Linked DNA regions of Homo sapiens. The protein of the gene in region 2 interacts with the protein of the main gene of each other region in a biochemical or structural test. Each region holds a gene or a part of one and is shown on either strand. Other genes may lie near its edges.

The links.
Region 1: of the proteins of TGFB1 (region 2) and MMP9, one has a biochemical effect on the other in vitro, tested with the Homo sapiens proteins (one study listed by BioGRID).
Region 3: the proteins of TGFB1 (region 2) and PZP form a complex in vitro, tested with the Homo sapiens proteins (one study listed by BioGRID).
Region 4: the proteins of TGFB1 (region 2) and FSTL1 interact in a biophysical measurement, tested with the Homo sapiens proteins (one study listed by IntAct).
Region 5: the proteins of TGFB1 (region 2) and THBS1 form a complex in vitro, tested with the Homo sapiens proteins (one study listed by IntAct).
Region 6: the proteins of TGFB1 (region 2) and PSG1 form a complex in vitro, tested with the Homo sapiens proteins (one study listed by IntAct).
Region 7: the proteins of TGFB1 (region 2) and DIP2A interact in a biophysical measurement, tested with the Homo sapiens proteins (one study listed by IntAct).

What each region holds. Positions count from the first base shown.
Region 1 is NC_000020.11:46,014,485-46,017,061, forward strand, and holds the end of MMP9 (matrix metalloproteinase-9 preproprotein), read left to right. Parts: exon of another isoform or gene 1-304; intron 305-1,765; coding exon 1,766-1,884; 3' UTR 1,885-2,077; downstream 2,078-2,577. UniProt on the Homo sapiens protein: Matrix metalloproteinase that plays an essential role in local proteolysis of the extracellular matrix and in leukocyte migration. Could play a role in bone osteoclastic resorption. Cleaves KiSS1 at a Gly-|-Leu bond.
Region 2 is NC_000019.10:41,336,923-41,340,422, reverse strand, and holds part of TGFB1 (transforming growth factor beta-1 proprotein preproprotein), read left to right. Parts: intron 1-3,500. UniProt on the Homo sapiens protein: Transforming growth factor beta-1 proprotein: Precursor of the Latency-associated peptide (LAP) and Transforming growth factor beta-1 (TGF-beta-1) chains, which constitute the regulatory and active subunit of TGF-beta-1, respectively.
Region 3 is NC_000012.12:9,205,596-9,209,871, reverse strand, and holds the start of PZP (pregnancy zone protein precursor), read left to right. Parts: upstream 1-1,476; 5' UTR 1,477-1,530; coding exon 1,531-1,613; intron 1,614-4,276. UniProt on the Homo sapiens protein: Is able to inhibit all four classes of proteinases by a unique 'trapping' mechanism. This protein has a peptide stretch, called the 'bait region' which contains specific cleavage sites for different proteinases.
Region 4 is NC_000003.12:120,405,993-120,409,492, forward strand, and holds part of FSTL1 (follistatin-related protein 1 precursor), read right to left. Parts: intron 1-3,500.
Region 5 is NC_000015.10:39,587,579-39,591,078, forward strand, and holds part of THBS1 (thrombospondin-1 precursor), read left to right. Parts: intron 1-463; coding exon 464-640; intron 641-947; coding exon 948-1,121; intron 1,122-1,380; coding exon 1,381-1,508; intron 1,509-1,623; coding exon 1,624-1,776; intron 1,777-2,226; coding exon 2,227-2,445; intron 2,446-2,937; coding exon 2,938-3,045; intron 3,046-3,500. UniProt on the Homo sapiens protein: Adhesive glycoprotein that mediates cell-to-cell and cell-to-matrix interactions.
Region 6 is NC_000019.10:42,876,914-42,881,111, reverse strand, and holds the start of PSG1 (pregnancy-specific beta-1-glycoprotein 1 isoform 2 precursor), read left to right. Parts: upstream 1-1,398; 5' UTR 1,399-1,530; coding exon 1,531-1,594; intron 1,595-2,833; coding exon 2,834-3,199; intron 3,200-4,198.
Region 7 is NC_000021.9:46,531,891-46,535,390, forward strand, and holds part of DIP2A (disco-interacting protein 2 homolog A), read left to right. Parts: intron 1-236; coding exon 237-347; intron 348-1,633; coding exon 1,634-1,757; intron 1,758-2,113; coding exon 2,114-2,223; intron 2,224-2,694; coding exon 2,695-2,797; intron 2,798-3,500. UniProt on the Homo sapiens protein: Catalyzes the de novo synthesis of acetyl-CoA in vitro. Promotes acetylation of CTTN, possibly by providing the acetyl donor, ensuring correct dendritic spine morphology and synaptic transmission.

The DNA.
Region 1 (2,577 bases), on a different chromosome or scaffold from region 2:
AGGAGGATCCCTTCGTGAGACACCACACTAAGCTCCTCTTAGTGAGTGGTCAAATTCTGAGCGAGGAAGAAAAAGCCCTTGGAAATGGAAACAAATGCCCCAGCACAGACAAGATCCCAGCAGAGGCAGAGGCCTTCTCCAGGTCATTTAGGAAGTCAGGGATGCAACCAAGACCAGGACCCAGATTTCCTGCCTCCCCGGCTGGAAGCTCTTTCTCCTTCAGTACAGGACGGCAGGTGGTTTGTATGGAAGCTCAGTTATTAGACAACAGTCATCAAGTGCCGATAATGTGCCAGGCACTGTGCTACAGGGAGAGATAAGACAATTCACAGCTCTGTGACTTTGGGCAAGTCACTGCTTCTCTACTCTTCGAGCCTCAGTTTCCCCATCTGTAATATGGGGACTATAGCTGGAATTACACTTGACTTCCCTTTCTTACCAGTCACATCCAAACAGTTGACAAGGTGAACAAGATTTCCTGCCACCAAAATCTTTTTCGAGTCTGTCATTTTTTTTGCCATCTTCTTTATAAACACCCCAGCCCAAACCATACTGGCTGTCCAGGACCTTTAACAAATTCCATGAGATTAGAGAGGGGGTAGGAGTGAAGGGCAATGGTCTTGGGAGTGACCCCAGATGAATTCCAAGGTCAAAGAAATTAAGAGGATCTGACACTCCACCCCCGTGTTCTCATCTCTTCCCACTCCTCCTGTTATTTACTCTGCTCCACCCACACTGGCTGCTCTTTGAACAGATCAAGGTCATTCCTAGCTTACAGCCTTTGTGCCAGTTGTTCCCTCTGTCTGGAAAGCTTCCCCTCCAGATTGTCACTGGGCCATCCCACTGTCTTCCTTCAGGTTTCAGTGCTAAGGCCATTGCTTCAATGAGGCCTTCTTTGATGCTTATTATCTATTTACTTGTTTTTATTTTCTCCATAGCTTTCTATATTTTCTTTTTTTTTCTTTTTTCTTTTTTTTTTTTTTTGAGATGGAGTCTTGCTCTGTCGCCCAGGCTGGAGTGCAGTGGCACGATCTCAGCTCACTGCAACCTCCGCCTCCCGGGTTCAAGCGATTCTCCTGCCTCAGCCTCCCAAGTAGCTGGGATTACAGGTGCCTGCCACCACGCTTGGCTAATTTTTTGTATTTTTTAGTAGAGACGGGGTTTCACCATCTTGGCCAGGCTGGTCTTGAACTCCTGACCTCGTGATCCACCCGCCTCAGCCTCCCAAAGTGCTGGGATTACAGGCATGAGCCACCGCACCCAGCCGCTTTCTATATTTTCAAAACCAATCTCATTTATTTATGTGTTTGCTTAATTGTCTCTTGCCTCACTAGAGTGTAAGCACCAAGATAATTGAGATCATGCCTGCATTTTTTCTGCTTATCCCCAGTATCTTGAACAAAGCACATAGTAGATGCTCAGTAAATGATGAATGAACAGATTTGTTCAATGAATGAGCGTTGAATGAATTGTTCTGAGCATTAAGATAGTTGGTCTATTCATTTGTTAATTCATTCACAAAATGTGTATGGTGTACCTACTGTGTGCTAGGCTCTGTGGCAGTGCTTTGGGCACTGAGGTCTGTGCCCTCCAGCATCTCACAGAACCTCACAGCATCTCACAGGTTGGGGGGATGGAGGTGATATGTGAAAACCTTAGAAAGTTCTAGAAATGGCAGAAGAGATGGTTGTCAAGATCTTGTTCCTATTTCTGTATATGTGGGAGAATTAGAATCACTCCTCTTATGCCTGCCTGTCTCCTGCAGAGAAAGCCTATTTCTGCCAGGACCGCTTCTACTGGCGCGTGAGTTCCCGGAGTGAGTTGAACCAGGTGGACCAAGTGGGCTACGTGACCTATGACATCCTGCAGTGCCCTGAGGACTAGGGCTCCCGTCCTGCTTTGGCAGTGCCATGTAAATCCCCACTGGGACCAACCCTGGGGAAGGAGCCAGTTTGCCGGATACAAACTGGTATTCTGTTCTGGAGGAAAGGGAGGAGTGGAGGTGGGCTGGGCCCTCTCTTCTCACCTTTGTTTTTTGTTGGAGTGTTTCTAATAAACTTGGATTCTCTAACCTTTAGAAGCAGACTTTATTTATATATGTATGCACGTATGTATGCATGTATGTATTTAACTGATAGAGTGCAAAAAAAAAAAAAAAAAGGAAAAACAAATAACTGATAGAGTGCTTTCTACGTGCCAGAAAGTGTTCTAGGCCGGGCACGGTAGCTCACTCCTAGCACTTTGGGAGGCCGAGGCAGGCGGATCACGAGGTCAGGAGATTGAGACCACCCTGGCTAACACGATGAAACCCTGTCTCTACTAAAAAAAAAATAGAAAAAATTAGCCGGGCGTGGTGGCGGGCGCCTGTAGTCCCAGCTACTTGGGAGGCTGAGGCAGGAGAATGGCTTGAACCTGGGAGGTGGAGCTTGCAGTGAGCCGAGATCACGCCACTGCACTCCAGCCTGGGAGGTGGAGCTTGCAGTGAGCCGAGATCACGCCACTGCACTCCAGCCTGGGTGACTGAGCAAGACTCCGTCTCAAAAAAAAAAAAAATAGTGTTCTAGGCACTTTGTAAAT
Region 2 (3,500 bases):
GTAATCCCAGCTACTCGGCTGGGATTACGGCTATCCAGGTACCCAGGCTGGGGCAGGAGAATCACTGGAACCTCGGGGGTGGAGGTTGCAGTGAACCGAGATCGCGCCACTGCACTCCGGCCTGGGCAATGATGCGAGACTCCATCTAAAAAAAAAAAAAAAAAAAAAAAAGAAAGAAAGTGTCAGTTTGAACCTCTTGAGTGATGGCTCAGAACTTTGGAATGTTGGGATGCAATACTGGCATACTGGAATTCAGGAATGCCAAGATCCTCAAAGGTTGGAAAGGGGGAATCCTAGAGAGTTGAAGATGCTGTCAGAATGTTAGAATCATAAGATGCTGGAATGCTAATACTGCAATCTAAGAAAGCTGAAATGTTGGATTCCTAGAAAGTTGAAATGGAGAGTTAGAATGTTGTAAATTTAGAGTGATCATCTGACCTTATTCCTCCCTTGCTTAAAATATTTTGGTCCTGTCTCTGGGCTTTGTTACCGGCTGTTTCCCTGCCAGAAAATCAGCCCTGCTCCCAGGCTCCTTCACCACCAGATCTTAGCGCCATCAGCCCAGCAACGCTGTCAATGAACAAATTGAGGTCTTTTTTGAGACAGAGTCTCGCTCTGTTGCCCAGGCTGGAGTGCAGTGGCGTGATCTCGGCTCACTGCAACCTCCGCCTCCCAGGTTCAAGTGATTCTCCTGCCTCAGCCTCCTGAGTAGCTGGGATTACAGGCGTGTGCCACCACACCCGGCTAATTTTTGGTTTTTTTAGTAGACACTGGGTTTCACCATGTTGGTCAGGCTGGTCTCGAACTCCTGACCTCGTGATCCACCCGCCTCGGCCTCCCAAAGTGCTGGGATTACAGGCATGAACCACTGCGCCCGGCCACAAATTGAGGTCTTGAGTGCCAACAGCTCCTGACATTACAAAGGGAGATAGCCAGCCATGTCAGCCTCCGTAGGGAGGGACCCAATGTTGCCTAGGAAGTCTTGGCAAAAAATCAAACCTGAAGGCCAGGTGCGGTGGCTCATGCCTGTAATCCCAGCACTTTGGGAGGCCAAGGCAGGCAGATCGCTTGAGCTTAGGAGTTCAAGACCAGCTTGTGCAACATGTTAAAACCCTGCCTCTGTACAAGAAATACAAAAAAACTAGCTGGCTGGGTGGTGTGTGCCTGTAGTCCCAGCTACTTGGGAGGCTGAGGCAGGAGTGCTTGAGCCTAGGAGGTTGTGGCTGCAGTCAGCCAGGATCACGCCACTGCATTTCAGGACAGAGCAGGACCTTGTCTCAGGAAAAAAAAAAAAAAATCAAACCTGAATCTGATCAGGACTGTAGATCCTAACAGTTTTCTAGAAAGACAGGAACAGAGGAAATGGTCAGCAAAACTCAGACTGCAAGAAACCTCACCCAGTTTCTTCATCAAATACAATGCAAAGAAGGGGAAAGCACACACACACACACACGTACCCCCCATGCAACCAAAAATTCACATACAAGTTTTGACTCCCCAAAAACTTAACTATTAATAGCCTACTGTGGACTGGAATTCTGCTTTATCCACAACATAAACAGTTGATTAATACTTTTTTTTTTTTTTGGAGACAGAGTCTCTGTCATTCAGGCTGGAGTGCAGTGGTGCGGTCTCGGCTCACTGCAGCTTCTGCCTCCCGGGTTCAAGTGATTCTCTTGCTTCAGCCTCCCGAGTAGCTGGGACCACAGGTGCCCACCGCCACGCCCAGCTAATTTTTTGTATTTTAGTAGAGATGGGGTTTCACCGTATTGCCCAGGCTGGTCTTGAACTCCTGAGGTCAGGCAATCCGCCCACCTCAGCCTCCCAAAGTGCTAGGATTACAGGCATGAGCCACTGCTCCCGGCCGAATAATACATATTTTGCATGTTTTATGTATTATGTCCTATATCCCCTTTTTTTTTTTTTGAGACGGAGTTTCGCTGTTGTCACTCAGGCTGGAGTGTAATGGCACAATCTCAGCTCACGGCAACCTCCACCTCCCGGGGGTTCAAGCAATTCTCCTGCTTCAGCCTCCTGAGTAGTTGGGATTATAGGCACCTGCCACCATGCCCGGCTAACTTTTGTATTTTTAGTAGAGGTGGGGTTTCACCATGTTGGCCAGGCTGGTCTTGAACTCCTGACCTCAAGTGATCTACCCGCCTCAGCCTCCCAAAGTGCTGGGATTGCAGGGGTGAGCCACGCACCCGGCCGTATTCTTTGTTTTTTTTTTTGAGACAGAGTCTAGCTGTGTCACCCAGGCTGGAGTGCAGTGAAGTGATCTCAGCTCACTGCAACCTCCGCCTCCCAGGTTCAAGCAATTCTCCTGCCTCAGTCTCCCAAATAGCTGTGATTTCAGGCATCCGCCATCGCACCCGGGTAATTTTTGTATTTTTAGTAGAGACGGGGTTTCACCATGTTGGCCAGGCTGGTCTTGAACTCCTGACCTCAGGTGATCCATCAGCCTCGGCCTCCCAAAGTGCTGGCCTTACAGGCTTGAACCACTGCTCCCGGCCTATGCCTGCATTTTAAAAATAAGATAGAGAAAAGAAAATGTCCTTAAGAAAATCATAAGGAAGAGGAAGTATATTTTCCATTCATTGAGTGGAAGTGGCTTATCATAAAGGTCTTCATGTTGAGTAGGCTGAGGAGGAGGAAGAAAAGGTGTTGGTCTTGCTGTCTCAGGGCAGAGGTGGAAGAAAAATTCACCTGTAAGTGGTGAATTTTGTAAGAGGACCCATGTAGTTCAAACCCATGTCCAAGGGTCAGTCTATATATAGTTGACCCTGAATATATATACAGAGAGAGAGAGAGATGATTTTGTAGATTTTGAAAAAAGTCCTAAGAGAGGCCAGGTATGGTAGCTCACACCCGTAATCCCAGCACTTTGGGAGGCTGAGGCAGGTGGATCACTTGAGGTCAGGAGTTGGAGACCAGCCTGGCCAACATGGTGAAACCCTGTCTGTACTAAAAATACAAAAATCAGGCCAGCTGTCGTGGCTCACACCTGTAATCCCAGCACTTTGGGAGGCCAAGGTGGGTGGACCACCTGAGGTCAGGAGTTCGAGACCAGTCTGGCCAACGTGGTGAAACCTCCTCTCTACTAAAAATTCAAAAATGAGCCAGGCGTGGTGGCGGGCCCTGTAATCCCAGCTACTCTTGAGGCTGAGGCAGGAGAACTGCTTGAACCCAGGAAGTGGAGGTTGCAGTGAGCCGAGGTCGCGCCATTGCACTCCAGCCTGGGCAACAAGAGTGAGACTCCCGTCTCAAAAAAATAAATAAATAATTAAAAATACAAAAATTAGCAGGGTATGGTGGCAGGCGCCTGTAGTCTTAGCTACTTGGGAGACTGAGGCAGGAGAATCACTTGAACCTGGGAGGCACAGGTTGCAGTGACCCGAGATTGCACCACTTCACTGCATCCTGGGTGACAGAGTGAGACTCCATCTCAAAAATTAAAAAAAAAAAAAAATCCTAAGAGACATATCAACCAATTGCAATGT
Region 3 (4,276 bases), on a different chromosome or scaffold from region 2:
AATAAGTCTTAAAACCATAATAGTGATGACATATTTTACAATATGTGCATACCACTTATACATATAAAATACAAAACACAAAATTATGCTATATATTATTTACATAAATATGGATTAAAAACATAAACACATCTTGAAGAATACATATCAACTTCCTAATCCCACAACATTGGAAGGGAAATGAGATTGGAGAGAATTACAAAGGAAACTCCAACCATATTTGTCTTGATTTATTTCTTTTTTTGGGTTGGTGGATCTGGTAAAAACTGGAAAAGCTTCTAGACAAATTTTAAAAGAGCACTACCATTGCCATCTTTCATTTCTTAAGAAGAAATGACCTTAAACAAACTTGGCAAGTGTTTAATTTTATTAAAGTTGGGTGCATGTAAGGTACGAGTGTCTTTTATCTTGCTCTCTATATTTGTGAGTATATATATATATAACATTTCATAATTTAAAAGAAATTATTTCATTCTATGATAATGTGACAAAAGAAACAAAGATGTGAAATAAAAACTAATAGGAAGGAATCCACTTTCAGCAGTGTGGCCAGGAATTTGCTCTCCAAAGAAGGGATGATTAGGCTGAAATATGGAGAAAGAGAAAGAAAGTTGATTTAAAAAGTTTCAAGCAATACAGTATGTAAACAGACACCAATGTCTGCAGTCTAAGGATGGCATTAAATCTGCTGGTGGTTTATATGTGATCATCATTGTACTACAAGTTCTATGAGAGCATGGATACTGAATATCCTGTTCAATATTGTATTTTCATCACCAGAATAGCACTTAGCACACAGTATGGCTCAAAAAAAAAATCTCAGATAAAGTCAATGACATGGTTTAAGGGACTCAAACGTTAGAGTGCTCAGACAGTAACAAGGACAGATAGGATCAACTAAGAATCTGATCAGGTCAATGCTGTGAAATAGACAAGTGTGATCTTTGATAACTCCTTTCTAAAATCTCTTTGATCTTTTATCTCTTTTATCTTTCATTGATCCTCTACTCTTGAAATCCTTATTTTATATCACTTTCTTCCAGGACCATGTACTCAATCAACTGCTAAAAAAGAAAACCCAAAAACCCTAAAGTCTATAGTTATAACTCACTCAGTCCCAGAAATGAATCTGCAATGCATGAGCTACTATCATGGTAACATGTCCCTGACATTCTTTGTCAGCATCCTTTGTCACCTGCTTGTAAGGATTTTGAAAGAGATGGAGAAAGGTAGGTTGAAGGTTCCTTATCAGGAGGTTTGCTGTCAAAGCTCATTCTAAATGGAATACAAATTTTATCTTCCAGACATGCCTCAGTACCTATCAGAATTTAGCCTTGAGAAAAATGAGGCAACCACTGAGAGTAATGACCCTTTTAGGGAATCTGTGCTCAATTCTGAACTCTATTCAGAGGCCTTGGGGTGGGGCTTGTTTGTACATAGTGGCCACATAAAGCCTGGTAAACTCAGCTGGTCTCCAGGGCGAGGCTGAGGGCAGAGAGTTGGACACAACCCTGAGATTTATCCCTCACAATGCGGAAAGACAGACTTCTTCATTTATGTCTTGTGCTACTTCTTATCCTGCTTTCTGCCAGTGACTCAAACTCTACAGAACCGTAAGTCTCACTCAAGACCCCTTCCTCCAGAGTGCGTTTCAGTCTCTCCCTTGTGTCTTCGCTTTGCCTTCCTTTGTAAATGCCACCTTTCCACTCATTACAATACCTTCCAAATATAAGAAATTATTCCAGTTAATCCCTTGTTTGTCTTTCATTTATCCTCTATTCTTGAAATCATTTTTTCTACACTGGGCCAATCAGAGTCATAAATACGATTAGTCACTAGGAAGCATGATTAAATAAAACACTAGATCCCAACTTCACAGAACAGTTCTTTTGGATGGAAGGCACTGAATATAGAGATATTCGAAATATATAGTGAAGTGCAACTTAACATGTATTGTAGGCCATATATATATATACAGAAAGTATAGCTCCTTTATTTTTCAATCATGTATCAAGTCTTCACCAACAGCCCCCAGTGGGGGACCAAAGCAGGGAAAATAATTTTAACCCTATCCAGTTGTAAGTTGGTACAACTCAATAATTGTAAGACTTCTTTTCCACCTCTCCCCAGTTCCTCTCCTCTATAGTGTCTAGAGAACTGTGGTCTCCATTAACTCCTAATAGAGAAAACTGTCAGAGTCCTTGGTCTCAAAGTTCTCCGTCCTTCTTGGCTACTGTCAGTCTGACTTCTCCTTACTTGCTGGCATGCACTGTTGAAGTTTAGCCATCTGGTTTCTCTTGTGTGTTCAGGACCCAACAGTCCTCTCTAACTGACTGTCTCACTTCAGCTGTTTCATATCCCATAGAACTCCTACCTTTGCATCCTGCCTCAAATACTATGGCTATTGTTTCAACACAGCCTGTGATGCAGGGTCACCTTGCCCCTTTGCAGTCCAGGCCATTTAAGGTCCCTGGCCTTAACCCAGCTGCCTTTACATTTCTTCCAGAGAATGGTGAGAACTCTTGGGTCCAATAATAGCACATAGGCACTGAGGTGTCCTGGAGAGGTTAAACTTCTACCTCTCTCTTGCATACCCACACTGCACTTCTAGATGCCTATCGTGTCTCCTGTATTCCAGACTGATACAGGGAAGTCTTCAGAGTCCCAAATCGGGAAAGGGATAAGGGGTCCCTCTGCTCTGTGTGTTACCCTTATCCATCTAACACAAATAGCCTTCTTCAGGCCAAAGCGCAGAAAGCAGAAATAAGGAGTTCAATCCAGTAAGTCTCCTGCTTTCCTCAGGCTTTTTCCTTGCACAATTTCCTGGCAACCGGTAGGGGTACATTTCTCCCCCACTATCCCTCTACCTCATCTACAGCAGTGGGCTCTACTACTTCCAGCTGCTCTCCATCCAGAAAGCATATGGGAATATGTGGAGGCTATTTTGCTTTCTGAGAGCAGACTGAATGGATAAAGCGAGTAGCGTGTATTGGGTCAGAAACATTAAGCAATTTGTGGTTCTGGATGCATTCCTACACTACATTGGACCATGCTGCCATTGAAACCATCCTTTTACGTTGTGTCTGCCACTGAACAAAGAACAACAAGCCTCATGCCCTAGTTGTCACAAGCAGAAGGGGTGTTTTCTCCCTTTATAAGGAGAAAACTTAACTTCATCCCTCCAGAATTAACCCTTGATGTGATAAATGTGAGAGACTACAAAAGAGAACCAATAGCCATTCTCCCCTGCCTTGGGGCAGTAAGCTTCAGAAAGATGAAGGTTTCAGGGGAATAAAATGAAAAAGAGAAAATTAAAAGTTATCACTTTAATATTTGCTACATTTAGTCCCTGCTAAAGAGGCAAATATTTAAAATGCAAACATTCATGATTGAGTAAACATATATTAAAACATTTTAGCAGCTCACTACCAATGACATCTTGGGCAAGTTTGTCAACCTGGATTTGTTCTGATTTCAATATCTGTTAAAAAAATATTAACTGAACTCATATAAAATAGTTCTTTAGAATATCAAATATATGTGGAATTAATTTTTAATCGTGATATCTTTTAGGCTTATAATTTATAAGAATAAAAATAGTAAATAAATTATAAATATATATATACCTTCTTATTAAGATCAAAGAACTAAAGGAAAAATTTTTTGATGGGGATGTAAAAAATGATACATTTTTATTATTTATTATGCTGTTAAAAGAGCAGTGATCAGGAGATCAGAAGCATCCAGATACCAGAAAAAGATTAAGACATAAGAGACTAGCTGAATGACTATCAGTGAGTTACTGAACTGCCCTCAGCTTCTCTGCTAGAGAACAAAACCTTACTACTCATACAGTAAAATCATCTGAAACTTGGATGATTTCAGAGTGGCCCTGGAGATTCATGGCATATAGTTTTGCCCAGGAACACTTTAAAACACATGTAGCAAGACTGGTGTGCTGGAGCAGACTACATGGAGGATGAGGGGACCAAATTTGAGTTCCACATTCCACAACTCAATTATCCTTGGATTCTCTCCTCCTAGTCTCACACCTATTAATTTTGTAAAGCAACAATATTGGGTTTCTTGTGTCAAATTGCCTGTCCAGAAAACAATTTAAAAAGTAAGAGTTTATGTTGGCAATGGAAAGTAAGGGTAGTAAAATAATATAAGAAAATAATAGTTTTTACTTGCAAATTTACTCTATAAATGGCCTAACCCTGCAGATATTGAATCATGAATCACTGAATCATTAAAGCTTTGAAGAGTTACATTT
Region 4 (3,500 bases), on a different chromosome or scaffold from region 2:
GCAAGGGATTCTGGAAGAAACATCTATCCAAATTTCTAGATAGAAGGGGAAGATGTAGCTAACAACTCTCCTCTCCTGCTTGCCATGTGTCACAGGTGTTCCACTCTAATGTTGTATAATGAAGGTGTGCATGAAACAACTATTAGGCCTTTGCTTAGTACGTACTTATCATTCTTGTCCTAATTCCTAGGAACAGGTCTCTGATGTCCTTTATTCACTATACAATTTTCCCTGACGAAACTTCCCTGTTTACCTTGTGAAGTCTTGATTAATTAATGGAAAATAATTAAATAAGTTTGGCTGGGGGCCATTGTTAGTAGCACAGGGCTTTCTTGAGTTCAAATATTGCATGTGCTGGGTAAATGACAGCAACCCTCAAAGACTCCAGTGTCATCAGGGCCTGATGATGGAATGAGTGTAGGGAGGGGAAACGTCCAGCACTAGCTACAGACCCAGTGCCACATGGCCCAAGTGGGCACCATGAACCTGGCAACCACAGTCCAGGCAGCTCTCAAAAGGCAGTGCTGTGTACACACACTTCAGTAGGACTAGAATAAGGCCTGCAGCTGGGGGAAGGTCCAGCCCATGTGCTTTCTCAACTCATGAGGGTCCAGTTGGGCCTCCCCAGGCCAGAGTTGTATGTAGAATCCACAGGAACACAGAATTCTGGTGCCTGCCCCAGAAATAGCCTGGAATGCCTGGGGGGTCTGCCTGTGAGGTCCTAATCATGGACCATGAACCAACCTAATTTATTGAGCCTCTCTTCAGCCAGTCAGTTACAAAGACATAATATCTCTCTGTGCCTCTTTCCCCAGCTCTATACAGGTTGATTATCCCTTATCTGAAATGCTTGGGACCAGAAGTGTTTCAGATTTCAGATTTTGGAAAGTTTAAATATGTATAATGAGATATCTTGGGGATGGGATCCAAATGTAAACATGAAATTCATCCCTGTTTCCTATATACCTTACACATATAGCCTGAAGGTAATTTTATACAATAGTTTAAATCATTTTGTGCATGAAACAAAGTTTTGACTGTGTTTTGAATGCTACCCATCACATGAATTCAGGTGTGAAATTTTCCACTTATGGCATCATGTTGGTGCTCAAAAAGTTTCAGATTTCAGCATTTGAGGTAACAAAACTTTTCCTCTATCTAACTGTAGGGTTGTGGAAAGGCAGAAAAGATGTATGTCATGAGATCTGTTCTTGGGGCTTATCAATGTAAGTTTGGAGACTCTTCAGAGGAGATGGGCTGAGACAGGCACTTGCTTGTGCACAGCAGCTGGGGCTGTGTGGGCTGTGGTGCCAGGGTAAAGGAGATAAGAAGGCTGGCTCAAGTGTCAGCCCTGGCCATCAGGAGCCACAGGGATTGAGATCACACCCAGATGAAATTAGGAATGGATTAGATTCCAAATTCCAAGAGCATGGAAGGCTCTTTCTACCTGGGTCTTTCTTTCTTCATTCTGTTACGCTTTCACCTAAGAAACAGTGACTACATCACTGGTTATGGTGAAAGTCAGATTTTGGCCTTATTCAAATTCTAATTCAATTTGGTTTTTGAACAATTTTGATGTAAGAAATGCCAGCTGGGCTGGGGAGCATTTCATTGGTTCATAACAGTCTCTTTGAGATATCAGACCTCTCACCAACAGGCAGCTGCTGACCTAGGAGGAGGCAGTCTCCCTTTGAAGACAGCAGCATGTAAGACTCTGATAATCATCAAAAAGTAGAAAATGAAACCTGTTTTCTCCTGTTAGACACTGCCAGAGTGTCTGGGAAGAGGGGATTTTGTGTCTGTCAGTCATGATCAAGCTTTCTTAGATGCCTGGTTGTGAGAATGTCCTAGAGAAGAGCTACTTTCCCAAAGGGCCTTATAGCTTTCAGAAGGGAGCCTGTAAAAGTGAGTTACTGCTGGAGGAGATGGAGATGTGTTGAGGGGAATGTGGCATAGGTTCTTGGGAATCAAATCTAATAGCAGGTGTCAGTGATGCCTGAGGCAGAGTGCCATCAAAGGGCCACTAAAAAATGGTTACAACGTCCTAAGTGGCCCCTGGGAAGGAGTGTCCTGGGCCCCACACCTCCTATGCTGTAATTGCAGGGCAAAGTCACTGCTCACACACAGCAGGCCCTGCAGGTACCTTTACCATTCGCTCAGCTTTTGAACAGTCACTTTCTTTACATTACTTTCTGTTCCTGTCCAAGTCTCCTGGCTCAGCACTATGATGTGTTTTTCTGTAGAAGAGGAACCATTCTTCCTCTAAGGGCTCTGTAATGTGGGAGTGATTGAGAGAGAGGACAGAGCAAGAAAGGCTGTGCTTTTTCATCTGGGTATGATCTCAAAAACTTGGAATCCAGAGATTTAGTATCTGCCATAGAGGAGAGAAATCTCTATGTAAAAATGACACAAGTGAAGTCTTAAATGACCAAATATCCATTTGAAGCCAACCCAGTATTTCTTCATCTGCGGGTTCTATAGTGTCAGAAAGAGAAATCCACAGACTAGACTGGCATTGGCCACATTAGGTGGCCTCAGAGCTGCCAAGAAAAGTCCTTCATGTGTCTGAAGTTGCTCCTGAGTCCTGGCTGGGTTGGGCCCTGGAAGCATGTGAGGGAGTAGATGGCTGGGGCATCTACCTAGTGAAGAGGGCTTTGGTGCTTGCATGGAAATGTGGGTATCTGAATGTGTCTGCATGTAGGATGTGTCTCTGTGTGGCATGTGAGTCTCTGTATGTGGTGTGTGTGTGCGTGTCTGGCATGTTTTGAGTTTAAGTGTGTCCTTCTCTGTGCTTCTGAGTGTGATATTCTGAGTGTGATGTACCTGTGTGTGTGTCTGTTCTTGTCAATCAGCTGTAAGAATGCCCTTAATTGCTTCTTCTAACTCTCAAGTTCTGTGAAAGATCTGCATGGCATGATAACCCGAGCCATCACTAAATATTATAGCTTCCTTCATTTCTCTTTGTGAAAATAGCATCTCTCCTGCTCCCAAGTGGAACACTCTGTCTCTTCAACTAATTATGATTGGGAACAGCAATATCTAAGTTCAGGAACAATCTCTGGACCCATGAAATGCCAGTCCATTGATTCTTCTCATATGAAGACTCTCTCCAAGCCATTGGCAGTCAAGTTAATGACTTAGAGAAATGTCAAACTAGGCAGGAAAGAGGCCAAAGTGGTCCAGGTCTGGGTGCAATCAGAGGGAATTTTGTATTAACAGCCAGATCCATAAGGTGTCATGGCGAGTAGGGGACAGAGCTTGGCCCTAACTGACAGGTTCTCCAAGACCTTTGTGGCTTTCACTGCCTGAAGGCAGCAGCACATGTGTGTTAGATCCCAAAGACTCCACTGCTTACTCCCACTGATCAAGCTGGTCAGAAGGCAACTTTCACAGCTTCATGAATGATCTATGATGAGGAAACTCAGGGTGTCTGTGCAGGTTTACATTTCCTGTGGTCTGGGAAGGTGTGATCGGGCAATGGGAGGAGGAAGCTTCCCTTT
Region 5 (3,500 bases), on a different chromosome or scaffold from region 2:
AAGGGCAGCTCCACAGCATGTATATTAAGAACACGGGTTCTAGGATCTCTGGATCCCAATCCCACTGCTTAGCTGTGCACCCTTGAACACAACTTACCCTCTCTGAGGCTCTTTCCTCATTTGCAACTTGGAGATAATAATAGTTCTTGATAAGTTTATCTTGAGCATTTTATTTAGATACTGCATGTAAAGCAGTTAGCACTGAGTTTTGGTTTATGGTAAGCACCCTGTAAATGTTAGGATATTAACAGCAACCCATAAAAACAGCGAACTTATCCGTTCTCTGGTAGAAAACATTCCATGTTGACATTTGGGCATGTGGCCAGGAGCCAATTTCTACCGTACACTGGGTTTAGTTGCCATTGACCATTTCCTGGAAATACTTCTGCGTGCTCCTGATGGGAGCCTCTATTTGGCTGTCTCTAAGCCAAAACCATTTGTGACCATCAACTCTGTACTTTAGTTAAACAGGATGGTGGCTGGAGCCACTGGTCCCCGTGGTCATCTTGTTCTGTGACATGTGGTGATGGTGTGATCACAAGGATCCGGCTCTGCAACTCTCCCAGCCCCCAGATGAACGGGAAACCCTGTGAAGGCGAAGCGCGGGAGACCAAAGCCTGCAAGAAAGACGCCTGCCCCAGTAAGTGTGAGGTCCGCTGCAAGGGTGAGCATGGGCAGCAGCTCTGCCCAGCTGGTTGCCTGGCATCTGCAGCCTGCAGTTCAGTGGGTCATAGAGCAGGAAGGTTACCTACTAGAGAAACAAACAGAAGCAAAGTCCTGCAGGCTCAGCAACTTCTTTTAATGAAAAACAAACTCACCCTCTTCCCCAGCATTCTTTCCATGTGTCAGAGAAGCAGAGGTTTCTTGAACGGGCTTAGGAGAGTCTATGACAAGGGAGGGATTTGAAAGTTGATCTTAATTGTTGCCTGTGGTTCATCTTCTTACAGTCAATGGAGGCTGGGGTCCTTGGTCACCATGGGACATCTGTTCTGTCACCTGTGGAGGAGGGGTACAGAAACGTAGTCGTCTCTGCAACAACCCCACACCCCAGTTTGGAGGCAAGGACTGCGTTGGTGATGTAACAGAAAACCAGATCTGCAACAAGCAGGACTGTCCAATTGGTGAGCCACGCAGCCCAGGATGAAACGACCCAGGAGCTTTGCTCTTTTACTGAATGCTGCAGTCAGCATTCGAGGAGATTCCAGCTTGGTTAGTCCTGAGCGATTTGATTGCTCTAAGATGCAGGTGGACAACATAATCCCAACAAGTTATCGGTTCCCTATACCCTATAATATCTTACACTGTGTTAAGTGCCCAGCATGGCAGTATGGCAGCTTAGACCAACCATTTACTGTGACTGTCTCTCTCTCCTTGTCTCAGATGGATGCCTGTCCAATCCCTGCTTTGCCGGCGTGAAGTGTACTAGCTACCCTGATGGCAGCTGGAAATGTGGTGCTTGTCCCCCTGGTTACAGTGGAAATGGCATCCAGTGCACAGATGTTGATGAGGTGAGGAACTGATGGGGCTCCGAGTTTCTGGATCTAGGAAAGCAGCTAACCTGTGCAGTCGCTTCCTTATGGCAGTGACTTCTAAACATGATGCACGCTCTTATTTCCTCCATAGTGCAAAGAAGTGCCTGATGCCTGCTTCAACCACAATGGAGAGCACCGGTGTGAGAACACGGACCCCGGCTACAACTGCCTGCCCTGCCCCCCACGCTTCACCGGCTCACAGCCCTTCGGCCAGGGTGTCGAACATGCCACGGCCAACAAACAGGTACAGTCAACTAGACGAGTAAACCAGAGGACAGGAGAGCTGTCCTTGACCAAAATAACTGGGAGCGGGAGGAATGTAATTTCATACCCTTCACCAAAAAAAAAAGGGCGAGGAGATGAATGTACGGTCTAGTTTTAGAAACGTGATTAGAAAATCCATGGTAAATCCTGCAGGGGAAAAACAGTCTTCCATATTTAAAAATGCTGCTCTGGAATAAGTTGTGAGCAGATGGACTTGTAAACGCCTAGGTGCTGAGCAAATTCAAGAAAAATAAACATAAAGCAAAGTTTGCTTATAGCCTCAGGGAGAATGGGGAGGGACAGAGGTAACCCACACTCTTCCAAATGGAGCCTCTGTCTACTCAGAGATGACAGGGATCTGGATTCTTGTTTCCATGATATCTGAGGATTCTCAAAAGCTCTGTGTAACAGCAGCATGGTGTACCCTCAGGTGTGCAAGCCCCGTAACCCCTGCACGGATGGGACCCACGACTGCAACAAGAACGCCAAGTGCAACTACCTGGGCCACTATAGCGACCCCATGTACCGCTGCGAGTGCAAGCCTGGCTACGCTGGCAATGGCATCATCTGCGGGGAGGACACAGACCTGGATGGCTGGCCCAATGAGAACCTGGTGTGCGTGGCCAATGCGACTTACCACTGCAAAAAGGTAGAGCCAGGTCCTTTGTGTGCCTCCAGAAAGAGGGCCCATCACCTTATCAAAACACAGGCTAAGGAATTTTAAATACTTAAAGTTTGGACATGAAACTGAAAGATTAAATCTCCCAAAGGGAGAGGGGCACTAATTCCTATTAAAATTAAATCACTTGGTGCCAAAAACATGAACAGGGCTAGCTCTTTTTGGGCAACTGTGTTCCATAGTCAACTCTTCTGTCCAAAAAAAAGTTCAGTACTCTATCCAAATACCAGCAAAGCATGACTTGTGTTCACAACATCTATAAAGCCTAGAGCATTTACACAAATTCTGTATGTATATCCCCCAAGAAAAGTTTTATTTTCTTGTCTTCCCATAAAAAAAATATGCTGTTACTGAGCCAAATTCTGTTCTTTTTCTATTTGGAATTCCAGGTACACTCCCTCGTGCATGAGCTCAGCATGAGGAAGGCAACTGAAGCAGTGATATATATCTTCTCTTTCCTAGGATAATTGCCCCAACCTTCCCAACTCAGGGCAGGAAGACTATGACAAGGATGGAATTGGTGATGCCTGTGATGATGACGATGACAATGATAAAATTCCAGATGACAGGGTAAAAACAGTTTTCTATCCCTTTTTCATCTTTTCAGTTCAGCAACAGCCTGAAACACTTTGGGATTCAAGGAAATTACATGGCTATAGCAAAAAATATACCAAATCAATACACAGGATAATTAGAAATTATTCATTGTGTTCCAGTAGTTTAAGGATGTAGATGTTGCCAAGAGAATTTTTAAATGAGGGTTTTGTTTTTCATCAGAACTGTTTTTCTCTGTACTTGAGAAATTATAATGCATAAACAAATGCCACTTTGTTCCCTAGATTCATTTCAAATGTCACATCGAAATTACAGTAAAATTGACTTTGGGCACACTATGAACTGAGATGATGGGATTATATTCTACATCTCACTAACTTCTAACCCACAGGGATCCATTTTTTTAACTATGTCCTTTTAACTTTTGTAGTGATCGTTTTACACTGAGTGATCAATTAGCCTATCCACTA
Region 6 (4,198 bases), 1.5 Mb from region 2:
ATCAACTCTTTCTGGCACTGCTCCCTAAATGCCCACCCCTGCTCCATCTGTCCTGTTCTCTGGGGCATCCCAGGCCAAGCCTAGCGCTGACACAGAACAGCGGCTGCCTGAGGGCCCACAGCCTCCCCGGGAATCAGCCAGGCACCCTGTGACCTGCCTGCCCGCTGCACCCTGGGGGCTCAGAGCGCGTGTGATGGTCACACACAGGCACCATCCGGGATGTGGCCACCTAACACCAGCTGTCCCTTGGGAAGACAGACCTCTCCTGTGTGCTTGCGGGAAGAAGGGGAATGTTATTGCTCTTTGATCTCAGAACACAACTCACCCCCACCCGCCCTCTCAGGTGAGAGCAATGTCCCTCCAGACAGGCTCTCTGGCCACTGCCTGTTCCTCCTCTACACACAGCAGCTTGGCCAGGTCAAAACCATCAGGACAGACCCCTGGGTATGTCAGCATATGGAGGGCTGAGCCCATCATGGCCACGGAGTAAGTTGGGATGAATCTCTCCAGCTCTGAACCCCTGCTCTGTCCCAGGCTCCCCCTCCCGCATCTCAATGAGCCATGTCCCGCAGGGTTCCTGGGTAACTCCCCACTTCCTCCTGCACCACCACAGGGAAGGTGTGGTGACCACAGGACAGTCAGCTGGGCAGAGAAGAGAGGACATCAAAGATGGTCAGGAAGAACATGAGAAACTATGAGCTCCAGCTCAGCCGCCAGACCCCAGGGAGCCATAGACTGACAGAGAACTGTCCCTTTGACTATGGGACTCACAGCCCCCACTGAGCAACCAGCACAGGCCTCTCCTCCCAAGAGGCATGAGAGATTCACCCTGCACACCGCCAGAAAGGACAGTTTCCTCTGGGACACCCAGGTCCTGAATGTCCATCCTTGGAAGCTGCAGCCAAGCTAGACATGATTAGAGAAAGGAAGGGTCCCTCTCACCAGGCAACACACAGCTCACCCACAGCACAATGGGGCATCATTCTGACAGGGACCTGGTACAGCTCCAGCCTCCTGCACTGAAGGGGAGAGCCTGATGGGGATGAAAGAGGCCAAAGGGCGTTAATTTGCACCCCGACCCAGAGCCATGGGGACACCAGGAGGCTGAGGCCCAGGACTGTTCTTGCCCAACCTGCAGGGTATGTGTCTGACTGTGTGGGTCTGTGTGTATCTCTTCTGTGTGTGTGTGTGTGTGTGTGTGTGTGTGTGTCTGTGTGTCTGCACAAAGTGTGTCTTGAGGTTTGGTGAAAGAATCACTGCTGAAAAAGGCAGAGGCCGCCACAATTCCCAGGGACCTGAAACACAGACAAAAGGAGAAACAGAAGGAGGGACAAGGAGGCAGGACTTAGAGAGGAGGGGACAGAGAGGTGTCCTGGGCCTGACCCTGCCCATGAGCTTGAGAATTGCTCCTGCCCTGGGAAGAGGCTCAGCACAGAAAGAGGAAGGACAGCACAGCTGACAGCCGTGCTCAGAGAGTTTCTGGATCCTAGGCTTATCTCCACAGAGGAGAACACACAAGCAGCAGAGACCATGGGAACCCTCTCAGCCCCTCCCTGCACACAGCGCATCAAATGGAAGGGGCTCCTGCTCACAGGTGAGGAGAGAACTTCCTGGGAGAGGACAGGAGGAGGAAGCAGAGTGACTGGATGGGGTCTCCTGGAGAGGATGGGGTTCTAAAAAATGAAAGAAGCCAGCACTTTGGGAGTCTGAGGTGGGTGGATCATGAGATCAGAAGTTCAAGATCAGTCTGGCCAACACAGTGAAGCCCTGTCTGTACTGAAAATACAAAAATTTAACCAGGTATGGTGGTGTGCTCCTATAATCCTAGCTACTCGGGAGGCTGAGGCAGGAGAATCACGTGAACCCGGGAGGCAGAAGTTGCAGATAGCTGAGATAGCACCACCGCATGCCAGCCTGGGCGACAGTACAAGACTCCATCTCAAAAAAAAAAAAAGAAAAAAGAAAAAAAGGAAAGAAGGCTCTGTTGGAGCCTGGATAGGGGAAAATACACCAGAGAGGGACAGGGGTCAAAACAGGAAAGTCGTATTGGACCGGAATTGGTAAGAGGTAGGAAAATCTTAAGTGTTCTGTTTTCCTGATTAATCATCAGGGGCCACCATATTTTGAAAAATGATAATAATAACTATAGCAGATGACACCTCAAATAAAAATATAAACAGGGCAGGAAACACTGTCCTCAGCAAGAAACCTCAACAATTGGGGGAAAAAAAACACCCAGGGCATGGAGGGCCCTGAGAACTCTCACATCTACAGGAGTCTGCAGCCTGTTCCAGGCACTGGGGTGCAACCAAGATCACAAAAGTCCCTGTCTTCACGGAGCTCACGCTGTCATGGGGGGGAAGACAGACATGCAAAGAGATCTAGAATGTGAGGTCAGGTGTTGACAAGAACCCTGGAGGGAGCAGAGCAGGGAAAGGTCAGAAAGGGAAGACCCAGGGTCTCTGAAGCAGGCATCAGGAAAGAAGTCTAACGATGCCCTGATGTAAGCAGGACCTGAGGGCATTGTGGAGGGGGCCATGCGGACCCCTGGGGAAGAGGATTCCAAACAGAAAAATGCCAACGTCAGAAGTGTTGAAGGAATGGGCGTCATGCTGCTGACCTTGACCTAGTAGGACAGTAGGACACACACACATACACACACACAATCACACATGCCGCTTTTGTGTGTGTGTGTGTGTGTGTGTTTGTATGTGTGTGTGTGTCTGTGTTGTCAAGGCTGAGGACTGAAGAGACCTTCTCAGGACCCAGGGCCCCATGTTTTCACACCAATACATAGGTCTCAATATTGACTGATGTTCTCTCCACCTCCTAGCATCACTTTTAAACTTCTGGAACCTGCCCACCACTGCCCAAGTCACGATTGAAGCCGAGCCAACCAAAGTTTCCGAGGGGAAGGATGTTCTTCTACTTGTCCACAATTTGCCCCAGAATCTTACCGGCTACATCTGGTACAAAGGGCAAATGAGGGACCTCTACCATTACATTACATCATATGTAGTAGACGGTGAAATAATTATATATGGGCCTGCATATAGTGGACGAGAAACAGCATATTCCAATGCATCCCTGCTGATCCAGAATGTCACCCGGGAGGACGCAGGATCCTACACCTTACACATCATAAAGGGAGATGATGGGACTAGAGGAGTAACTGGACGTTTCACCTTCACCTTACACCGTAAGTGATTCCACATGATCCCTGGGTGTTGGGGGACAGGGGTCACTTCTACTTCACACACACAGGATTGTCAGGCCTGGACTCTGCCTGTGTCACTCACTGCGTTATGTCCCATGCTGGGATTTGGGCATTTAGTGCAGGACACACACAGAGGAGACAAATTTCAACAGATCAGAATTCCTTTCCTGCATCCAGACCCTGCAGACACTCGCTGCAGAGGAAGGACAGTCTGATGGGGGGACTCAGCAGGAGGAGATCAGTCTCAGCCAAGCACCTCATGCCCTCTTCATAAATTTGACCCTGAGAAAGACCCTGGATAACTGAGTAGGGCTTGGCCTGAGGGGCCCCCTGAGATACTCTCAGAGAAGCTCAGCCCTAGAAGCCTCAACCCCAGACCCTTGTCCCTAAATCCTTGTTCCAGATAAAGCTGAGGAGCCTGTGCTGGGACTGGGTTGTGGCTTCTTGGGCAGGGCTTACTGGGACCAAGGATTTACCAGCTGTCAGAGGACTGTGTCTCCTGGAGCTGTTCACCAGCCAGGGCTCAGCCCTCAGAGCCTCATCTGGGCCAGGACAGAGCTTTCTTCACCTGATACTCAGAGTGGAGAGGACAGAAAGACAAGCTTTGTAGGCCATCACCCAACTGCCTTAGGAGGCTTAGGATAGTCCATAGAAAGACTAATGTCCCCAGAAGCAGAAACAGAAGAGAGAAGATGTACCAGGTAGCAGCTTGTCCACAGGGATCTGACGTAAAGGTGCTTTCTCATGGAAGCAAATTAATAATAAATGCTGTTTGTGTGAAACCTCCACTGTGCCAAGCATTAGGTCAGGTGACTGTGAATAATTTAACATTTATTCACAGATAGCATGAAAAGCCACAGTCCATTTGCCATTTAGCTTATTTGATTGAGAGAAAACTGAGGCACAGGAAGGCACAGTGACTGAGCAAGAGTCACACAAACACAAAGGGGAGATCAGGGTCACATGAGGTCTGTCTGTAGC
Region 7 (3,500 bases), on a different chromosome or scaffold from region 2:
AATTTTGTCTTACAAAGTCAGCACTTATTGGTTATTCATTGTTGCGTGTTCTCAAAGGCCCTGAGTCAACTGTCTCTACTCAGTTAAATACTATTTGGACTTGTCCCTTATGGTTTCAAGCACAATTATTACAATATTTGGGGCTTACAAAAATTTTATTTATAACTAGCTTTTAATTTAACTAGATATTGTAAAAATTGGAAATTTGGAATATTCATTTCTTTGTCCTGTTGTAGGTGGCGCTCGTGTTTCCGAATAGTGACCCTGTGATGTTCATGGTTGCATTTTATGGGTGTCTCCTGGCAGAGCTGGTTCCTGTCCCCATAGAAGTGCCATTAACAAGAAAGGTAGCAAACCCATGGCTCAGGTCCCGTGTGGTTCGCTTCTGAACTTGATACCAGCAGTATCTTACTTCCTTTTCACTCATGTGGGCAGGCAGCAAGCAGCTGTTTTGACAGAGGAGAGAAAGCTAGTAGTCAACAGGCTGGCCAGGACTCAAGAGAAATCAGATGCCGTTTTGCCTGCCTCTCTTCTTGTTAATGAGAGGGGCACTGAGAACCGTTTTGCTGGTGATGCTCCCACACCACACTCTTATTAGGTGGAGCTGTTCTATCATCTACATGAATTTCCCAACAGAAATGATAGCCATTTTTTCCTCTAATGAATAGAATTATGATTCAATAAGATTTTGTTCAACTTTTCCTCAAAACCATATGTTTATAGAAAATAATTATTATTTCTTAGGGATAAATATATCATTACAGTGATATAGCTCACTTCTCAGTGGCAGTTTTGAATAAACGAGATGGAAATTATCTTGCATTTCTGTTCACTTATATGACCGTAGGCAGTTTCTGTTGCTGATAAATTATTAATGTGGGGTCTTGCTGATCTAGGTATCTGTAACATTTTTGATATAACTATCAATAATATGATTACTGAAAAAAAATAGACAAGGCATGAATTTGAGAAAATCAGTTTTCTGTCATCCTGTCCCAGAATTCAGGCAGTTGTTAACAGGAGCATTATCCAGAAATATTCAAGAATCCCAAAAGTAAAATTTGCAAATCAAACTAGTGTATCTCAAAGCATAATATGTGATGGGCAGGTATTTGAATGCAGTGGTTCTTAGGAGTAAAACTAGAGATTTGTCAAATTTATATGAAGAAAATGACAGAATACTGCTGAGGGACACAGAAGACTTGGCTACAAGGAAATGTGTTTCTGTGTGGAAATAATTTAATATCGTTGGTGACCAGGCCTCTCTAGATTAATTTGTAAATTTCAAACATGATTCAATAGAAATTTCAATGCCATTAACTTTGGAGTTTATTAAAAATGCTTCTAAATGTCATTTGTAAGAATAAACTTTGAGAAATTAGCCCATTAAACTTTATATTTCAACACAAATACAAACCAAAATTATCTTTTAAATTTAAACATAGTTGTCACATTTTCATGAACTATTTCCGTGAAAAGATCATATATATCAATAATGGGACTGAATTATTCTGGAAGTTTTATGAGGGATGAAAAAAAGATCTGTTCTCTGTGCATGGCCTGGAGCACCAAGGGTCTGGGGCTGTGGCTGCTGTGAGCACCCCACCCCACACGGTCACTCTGCTTTCTGCAGGATGCAGGCAGCCAGCAGGTTGGGTTTCTGCTGGGCAGCTGTGGAGTCTTCTTGGCCCTGACCACAGACGCTTGTCAGAAAGGCCTCCCCAAGGCACAGACAGGAGAGGTGGCAGCTTTCAAAGGTGAGGCCTCCCAAGGGAAGGGGAGTCAGTGTTCTGACTGTGGTCTGTGTTAAATGCATGGTGTTCCAGAAATTAAACATGACAGAGGTGTCTGGGTCTTCAGCAAAAGTGATCCCTTGTTCGAGTCCTTGGTGAATCTCGGTTTTCATCTGGCTTCATGTCTCGACCTGTACTGTCTAATGTGGTAGCCACTGGCCGGATGTACCTTTTTAAATTATATAAAATGAAATGAGACTAAAACTTGCACTCCTTATTCGCTCAGTAGCTAGTGCTGCATGTTGGAGGCGCAGGCTTCGAGTGTGGGGAGCAGATGCCTCTGACTGCTTGCTGTTCTGTGTCCTGTCTGTGTGTCACAGGTTGGCCCCCGCTCTCCTGGCTAGTGATTGATGGGAAGCATCTAGCCAAGCCCCCAAAGGACTGGCACCCTCTGGCCCAGGACACAGGGACTGGGACTGCCTACATTGAGGTAATGACTGTTCCTAACTTAGAGAATGTAAAAACATGTCCCACAGGCTTAAGTCTTGCTTTTCATAAGAATGTAAGTTGCTATTCTTTTTTGTTAAGTTTCGGCCTAAGAGTTCTTGTTTTATCTCTGCCCTGGAAATACAGAGTGTCATATAAATCCTTGCTCAGATCCTTCCAGGTTTCTCTCTCATCTAATTCTCTCCTAACTGGCTCCCTGGGGATGCAGACAGTTATGAGGGAGCCCATGGCGCACCATTACCCTCGGGCACCTGCCCAAGAGGAGCCACAACTTCCACTGAAGCATCCCCTCAGCGGCCAGGGTTTTGCCATGTACCTGGGCTGCTGGTTAGAGGCCGATGGTTAGAGGAGAGACACTGACCACTTCTTCTTTTGAAGATTCTACCAGTTTCCATTCTGTCTGTTGTCACCTCTAGAAATACCACATCATGTTTTTTTCCTTGAAATCTTTCAGTATAAAACCAGCAAAGAAGGCAGTACGGTGGGGGTCACAGTGTCCCACGCATCCCTGCTGGCACAGTGCCGGGCTCTGACCCAGGCGTGCGGGTACTCAGAAGGTAAGGGCTCTCGGGGGTGGGGCGGTGGCCCCTCCAGCCTCACACAGATACCTGACGTACCTAATCATGTGACTGTCACTGCACCTGTCAAAACCACCCCTGGGTAGTGCCTTTGCCCATTAATCCGGGTCATGCCAGGTAGGGAGATGCACTGTCTTTAGCATGCTTACAGGGTCTCTGTGGTTGTGCTGGCCAAGAGGGCACACGGTGTCTCTTAGCAGAGTCCAGACAACCCCATCAGGGTTGTTTTCAGTAAATGCACATGGATGTTGATTTTATGGAACATGGAACCTATATCCCACTGATTGATTTATACACAGTGCTGGGTTCACAGGCCTGCCCTGGGGGGCTGGCTTACTCTGTGACATACTGAGGGTCAGGGCATTTTTCATTCAAAAAGAGGAAAACACTTTTAGTTTTCTATTACTTTATCTATGACTGTAGTTTTGACCTCAGCTGTCATGGATATAAATATATAAGTAGAATCTTTATGGTTATAGATGATCTGTTGATAAAGTATAGTCAGCACCTGATTTACTTCAAATGTCAGATACTTAACTTGAGATATCTTTAAATTAATATTATTTAATTGATAAGTACTAATTGTATATATTTATGGGGTACACTGTGACAATTTTAAAAACTGTAAAAATGGACTCAGTAGTTTTCTTACATTGTAATACTAGAATTGAACAAAACTACT